Linked DNA regions of Homo sapiens. The protein of the gene in region 1 interacts with the protein of each later gene in a pairwise test. Each region holds a gene or a part of one and is shown on either strand. Other genes may lie near its edges.

Region 1 (2,916 bases):
AGTAAATGAAGTTGAACCATGCAAGAAAAATTACATGACAATAGAATAGAATGTTCTCATGTTCTTTCTGATAATAAGGCCGGACTATTTTTCACCCTTGTTGTACCTTCCATTGATCCAATTTGTTATCCCTGAAGCACCTTATATAGCACAAAAGAAACAGGACTGTTTCTAAGAATGAGCCATCTTTAAAAGGTGTAGGAAACCATTAATAATAAGTTGTATTTGACAATTTTTCATTTTCCTTTGAAAACATACCAATCTAAACAACATAGTAGCTTGTTAAATAAAGCATCTTCTGAAGCATTCATTTTCAAAAATGAGGAGATTCTTTCTTTTAGAAAACAGAAGTATAGGAGTTAAATAGTTAAAAAGCCAGATGAATCCCCTCAGATTCTCCGTATCTTGTTTCTGTTAATCTAAAATAACTTCTTTGCTACAGCCCTAGTCGTTACATCTTATTAGTTATATTTAAGGTACTTAACTTGAATTATACCTTTGTATATGAACTTAGCCCTTTAGGAGTACTAACATGAACCATTTTATTAAGCTTCTATTTGTATATGGTGATTTAACTTTCTTAGTGTTTACCATTTGTATGTTTCCTTTTTCCTCTAGCTTCAAAGGAATATTTTGGCATCTAATCCCAGGGTCACAAGATTCCACATTAATTGGGAAGATAACACAGAAAAACTGGAAGATGCAGAGAGCAGTAATCCAAATCTACAGTCACTTCTTTCAACAGATGCATTACCTTCAGCATCAAAGGGATGGTCCACATCAGAAAACTCACTAAATGTCATGTTAGAATCCCACATGGACTGCATGTGACCACCTACCATCCCTTTAGTACAAATTAAGCTATTAAAAATACACAGAACTATTTCCCTGAAATTCCGTAAGTACATAGTCAAAACACAATGTGAAGAATTTGTTTAAAAACATCCTGTAGAAAGTTTATAAGAAAACCAGTATTTGAACAAATTGTGGAATATAAATACAACTATTTTTAAGTAATTTTTTTCTCTAATGTGTTATTTTATTTGTTCTGAAACTAATCTGATTAAAGCATATATATTATTTTCTTCTCCTTTATATGTAATGAAAGCACTTATAAAGAAACAGGAATCATTAGACCAGGTTGTAAAGATGTCTTGGCCTCCCAGACAGTCTTTGGACCACTATTTTACTGGCCTTTGAAAGAACAAAGTTTACTTCAACTAAAATGTTTCTTCCTGTGAAGACATATGGTATCATTTTAATTTAAGGGGCAGATTTCCATTCTTTTTTGGCATGTCCTTAAAAAGAGGATTTGAAATCAACTATATGCTACCAAGAACTTTAGGATCCAATTTTCCAAGCCACCGTGAAGCCTCTTATGGCTACTATTATAGTTCATGAGATGTTGGACAGCATTTGGTTTGTTTGGTAAGAGAAGAACAAATATGGCTAATTGTTAATAAGGTCCCCTGGCTATGGTTTTTGTTCTTATAACAGAGTTTAGAATATCAGAGCATTTCTTGAATCATACATCATTATTGTCCAGTGAATTCAAGACCAAATACAATATCGGGAGAAAATACAAACTCCCTGTGTTTAAGAATAGGGGATTACAATGGCTCAAATTGGTTCATTTGATTTCTAAAAATACCATGACCTTTAAAAATTCTTTTAATAGATCATGTTATTGGCAGTATTTATATAAAAACCATGGATTTAGAAAGGTATATTTAGCTTTATTATAATAGATACGTTACTATTTTGGAAATATATATATTTTCACACCTGTAGTACTCTTCCCCATTTCCTCTGACACTCATGCAGAATGAGATCAGGCATATTTGTGGTTGACATACTCTAGATAGCTTTTCCAACAAATCTTTGAAAAGCAATCTTGGAAAGGAATTCATTAACTAAATGGGGTAAAAGGTTTCTTTTTCTTTGAGAGTTAAGTCCTTCCTCAAAAAATTTTCTTATGCTCCATAAAATTGAGGTAGAATATTTTCATTATTCTTGCAGCTAAGCAAGACAGCCATATGATGCAGGTTATGCAGTGCCTTCATATCTAAAACTTTTATACTGCACTTTTTAAAGCTTTTATGTTGAGGAAAGGAAAAGGGCATTTGTCTAAACATGGATTCTGAGTTGTATATATTTCCTATCATTCTAAAAAAGTGAATTTGTGAAGCAAAGTTTTGCCAGATGTTAAACTTTGAATTTAATATACCAGATTATTAAAATATTGTCCATTAACTAGTTCATAGATTTTAAAAGTAAAATACTTCTGACTGTTAAAACTATATAAAGAAAATCTCATTTGTCTAATTGCAATTAAAAGAAAAATGTTAAAATATTAAAATGAAAATAAAAGCATTACTTTCCAACAAAGAGCTCAGTGGTTAATATAATAGGAACAACATATGTGCTTATTAGAAATAAAGCATATACAGCCAAATCACCAAATAAAGCCATTTACTGCTGAGTTTTTATTCTGACTAATTATAACAATCTATTTGTAGTGACATCAAAGGGTTAGGTTTTTGTATCAAGTTGTAAATGGACAACCAATTTTCACTTAAGCTTGGGACATGCGAACCATTACCTTTTGTTATCTTAAATTTTATCACTCTAAGAATTTTTTTAATGACTGAAAATAGATTTAGACTTCAAACATTAGAAACGTAAGAAACTGTAGCACATAAGTTTTTTTTCCACCCGGTCTAGCGTCATTTGCCAATACTGTATCTGAAGAACTATTTTCCACCCTTTTGCTCATAGTAAATAGCTGTGTCCTAAGAATATAAACATGAACCAATGACTTATGCCACTAAGATGGAGGCATTAAGGGTATTATTTGGGCTGAGAAAACATTCCAGAGGTCTGAAGAAGTATGCATGCATTTATTTGCCCATTCAT
Region 2 (3,656 bases), on another chromosome or scaffold:
TTTTTTTTTTTTTTGAGACAGAGTCTTGCTCTGTCACCCAGGCTGGAATGCAGTGGCGTGATCTAGGCTCACTGCAACCTCCGCCTCCTAGGTTCAAGTGATTGTTCTGCCTCCGCCTCCCGAGTAGCTGGGACTACAGGCATGTGCCACCACGCCTGGCTAATTTTTTGTATTTTTAGTAGAGACGGGGTTTCACCGTGTTAGCCAGGATGGTCCCAATCTCCTGACCTGGTGATCTGCCCACCTTGGCCTCCCAAAGTGCTAGGATTACAGGTGTGAGCCACCGCGCCTGGCAGCCATTGCCATTACTTTAAAACCTTTCCCAACTTGTGCCCAGGTATCAATGGCAATGCCCTGATGTCCTCAGTAAATTTGTTAAAGTATCTTTTTTTTTTTTTTTTTTTTTTGAGACGGAGTCTTGCTCTGTCACCCAGGCTGGAGTGCAGTGGTGCGATAATCCGCTCACTGCAAGCTCCACCTCCTGGGTTCACGCCATGCTCCTGCCTCAGCCTCCCAAGTAGCTGGGACTACATGCGCCTGCCACCACACCTGGCTAATTTTTTTGTTTTTTGGTTTTTTTTTTTAGTAGAGACGGGGTTTCACCATGTTCGCCAGGATGGTCTCAATCTCCTGACCTCGTGATCCGCCCGCCTCGGCCTCCCAAAGAGCTGGGATTACAGGCGTGAGTCACCGCGCCTGACCCTGTTAAAGTATTTTCTAAGCTTCTTTGAAAACGGAATCTCTTTGTGGTTGCTGCTGATAAAACTCCTTTGACCTGACGATTGCTCTAAGTCCTAATTGCCATATTTATATTCCCATAGTAAGAGTGTTTGGAGATAGTGTTTGAGCTTTTTTGCTGGTGTTAAAAATGCATAATGAAAGATGGCAGAGAGAGGCATATTATATCCAATTCATGAGTTGTTTGTGTTAACAGAAAGCTTATTTTAATCACTTAACATTGTTGATTTGTCTAATCACAGTAGCGCTATTGATTAGGAGCCTGACCTTTAGATGGTTGACTTGTGAGTGTATTCAATATGGTGAAATATGGTGTTGATATATGGCTGCAGATTTTAGAGGTGTCATTAGCAAAGGTATAGGAGTAAAATAGGGGTTATAGTATTCCTTACTCAAATTCTGTATGTGCTAGAGCTGGCTGGAGTCTGTGGCATGCTCATTGGTGTAAGTCGGTAAGGACTATGCTTTTTGCTCCACATCTCTGTTGTGGGAAAGCTAGTCTCTTGAGCATTCTTGATCAGAATGGACTGGAATAATTTAACTTTCGTACTTTCCCAGGCTATTAGTATTATCTAATGAGTGGCTTAAAGATACCAGAAACACTGACTGAGGTCTCCACCTGCTTCTGGCTGAATGAATGGGAGCTTCTAGCCATTGAATAAGAGGCAGTAGCCAATGTTTCTTATTCTGAATGGTCCAGGTTGACTTTTATAAGAGAAACACTCAGCCTTTTAATTGCTGAAGGTCTGACCCATAGACTAAGATTGCACATTCTTAGTCTAGGTTACACTTGAACTAGACTGCACCCACTGACGATATATTCAGTTCAGGTGTTAACTCACTTGGATTAGCATCTGGCCTGTCCTATCTGAATATAGGTTGAGACGTGTATTGGAATCTCTGACTAGTCAGAATACGTTCTTAGTTATATTCTCAATACTGAGGAATTTTTACTTGTAGAAACTGAAGGCTCAGAAGAGGATGATAAAGAAAATGATAAGACCGAAGAAATGCCAAATGATTCAGTCCTTGAAAACAAGGTATGTTGTTAGCCACTCAGTACTGTTGTCAGCCTTTTTCTGTTTTTGGGAGACTGGAGCTCACTCTTGTTGCCTAGGCTGGATTGCAGTGGGGTGATCATGATCATGGCTCACTGCAGCCTAGACCCGGGCTTAAGTGATCGCCTCACCTCAGCCTCTCAAGTAGCTGGGACTACAGGCTTGTGCCAACATGCCCAGCTAGTTTGCAGGACTGTAGCTTACCTAGTTTAGGCACGATTATTATTTTTTTAAGAGATAGAATCTCTGTCTCTGCCCAGGCCGGAGTGCACTGGCATGATCAGGGCTCACTGTATCTTTAGCCTCCTGGGTTCAAGGAATCCTTCTGCCTCATCTTCTCAGATAGCTAGGTCTCCAGATGTCTGCCACCATGTCTGGCTAATTTGTTCTCTAATTTTATTTTGTTTAGACGGCTGTCTTGCTGTGCTGCCCAGGCTGGTCTCAAACCTGGCTTCAAGTTATTCTCCTGCCTCAGCCTCCCAAAGTGTTGGGATTATAGGCATAACCCACCATGCCCAGCCCTAGGCATGATTATTATAGATAACTGTCTCTTGATTATGGATTAGGGACCCTTTATTCATGCCTAGGATGGGTGGATATATTTGATCCTGGGGTTCTTGTGTGTTAGTATGTGAGCCAACATTTCACTGTTAAAATATCAGTGACATGGTCATGACTTAAGACAGTATGTGGACCCATTCTCTAGATTTTAGGGAGAAAGTCCAAATTTTGAATCGTATATCAACTTTTTTTAAGCTACGCTAAGTTATACATTTAGATTTGTATTTGAAAAAGATGCCTATCTTTTTATTATTTGGTTATACTTTAGTCTCTTCAAGAAAATGAGGAGGAGGAGATTGGGAACCTAGAGCTTGCCTGGGATATGCTGGATTTAGCAAAGATCATTTTTAAAAGGTAAAACTCTTGGTGCTTCTAGGCTTGGGTTGGGAGTTTGGTGGTTAAATAGAAACCAGTTAGGGTTAGACAGGTACTGTTAAGGTTTTTGATCAATTTTCCTTCTTTTAGGCAAGAAACAAAAGAAGCACAGCTTTATGCTGCCCAGGCACATCTTAAACTCGGAGAAGTTAGTGTTGAATCTGGTAATGCATTTTCCATTTTATACTCTCCTACTCTCTTCAGCTCCCTCGTTCTTCCTCTAATAGATTCTCTGGAACCGAACTTGATCTTTAAAAAGATAGGTCTGTGTTCCCTGTAGACCCTGGAACAATGAACAGTCTCTTCCAAGTGGCACTCAGTCTTCCAGTAGGTTTGTTTTGTTTTGTTTTTTTTGAGATGGGGTCTTGCTGTGTCGCCTAGGCTGGAGTGCAATGGCGTAATCTCGGCTCACTGCAACCTCCGCCACCCGGGTTCAAGCGATTCTCCTGCCTCAGGCTCTCGAGTAGCTGGGATTACAGGCACCCACCACCACGCCCGGTTAATTTTTGTATTTTTAGTAGAGACGGGGTTTCACCATATTGGCCAGGCTGGTCTTGAACTCCTGACCTTGTGATCTGCCCGCCTCAGCCTCCCAAAGTGCTGGGATTACAGGTGTGAGCCACCACGCCCAGCCTCAGTAGGTTTTTAAAAGTCATTTTGACTTTCTTTATAGCCAAGGGTCCTGGAAATAACTATAAACAAAAATGGAATGTTAAATATGGGTGCATTCCCATAGGATGGGTCTGAATTCTGGAAGTATTTTATGTTGAATGCTGTCCATTTACTTGCTCTTCTTTTTCTCTTTGTTAGAAAACTATGTGCAAGCTGTGGAGGAGTTCCAGTCCTGCCTTAACCTGCAGGAACAGTACCTGGAAGCCCACGACCGTCTCCTTGCAGAGACCCACTACCAGCTGGGCTTGGCTT

Evidence for each region. Proteins that work in one complex are often made in the same cells at the same time.
Region 2: the proteins of ASF1A (region 1) and NASP interact in binary tests that used the Homo sapiens proteins (3 or more experiments, as listed by UniProt).

The regions. Positions count from the first base shown.
Region 1 is NC_000006.12:118,906,784-118,909,699, forward strand, and holds the end of ASF1A (histone chaperone ASF1A), read left to right. Parts: intron 1-618; coding exon 619-831; 3' UTR 832-2,388; downstream 2,389-2,916. UniProt on the Homo sapiens protein: Histone chaperone that facilitates histone deposition and histone exchange and removal during nucleosome assembly and disassembly.
Region 2 is NC_000001.11:45,611,471-45,615,126, forward strand, and holds part of NASP (nuclear autoantigenic sperm protein), read left to right. Parts: intron 1-1,698; coding exon 1,699-1,778; intron 1,779-2,625; coding exon 2,626-2,711; intron 2,712-2,822; coding exon 2,823-2,896; intron 2,897-3,542; coding exon 3,543-3,656. UniProt on the Homo sapiens protein: Component of the histone chaperone network. Binds and stabilizes histone H3-H4 not bound to chromatin to maintain a soluble reservoir and modulate degradation by chaperone-mediated autophagy.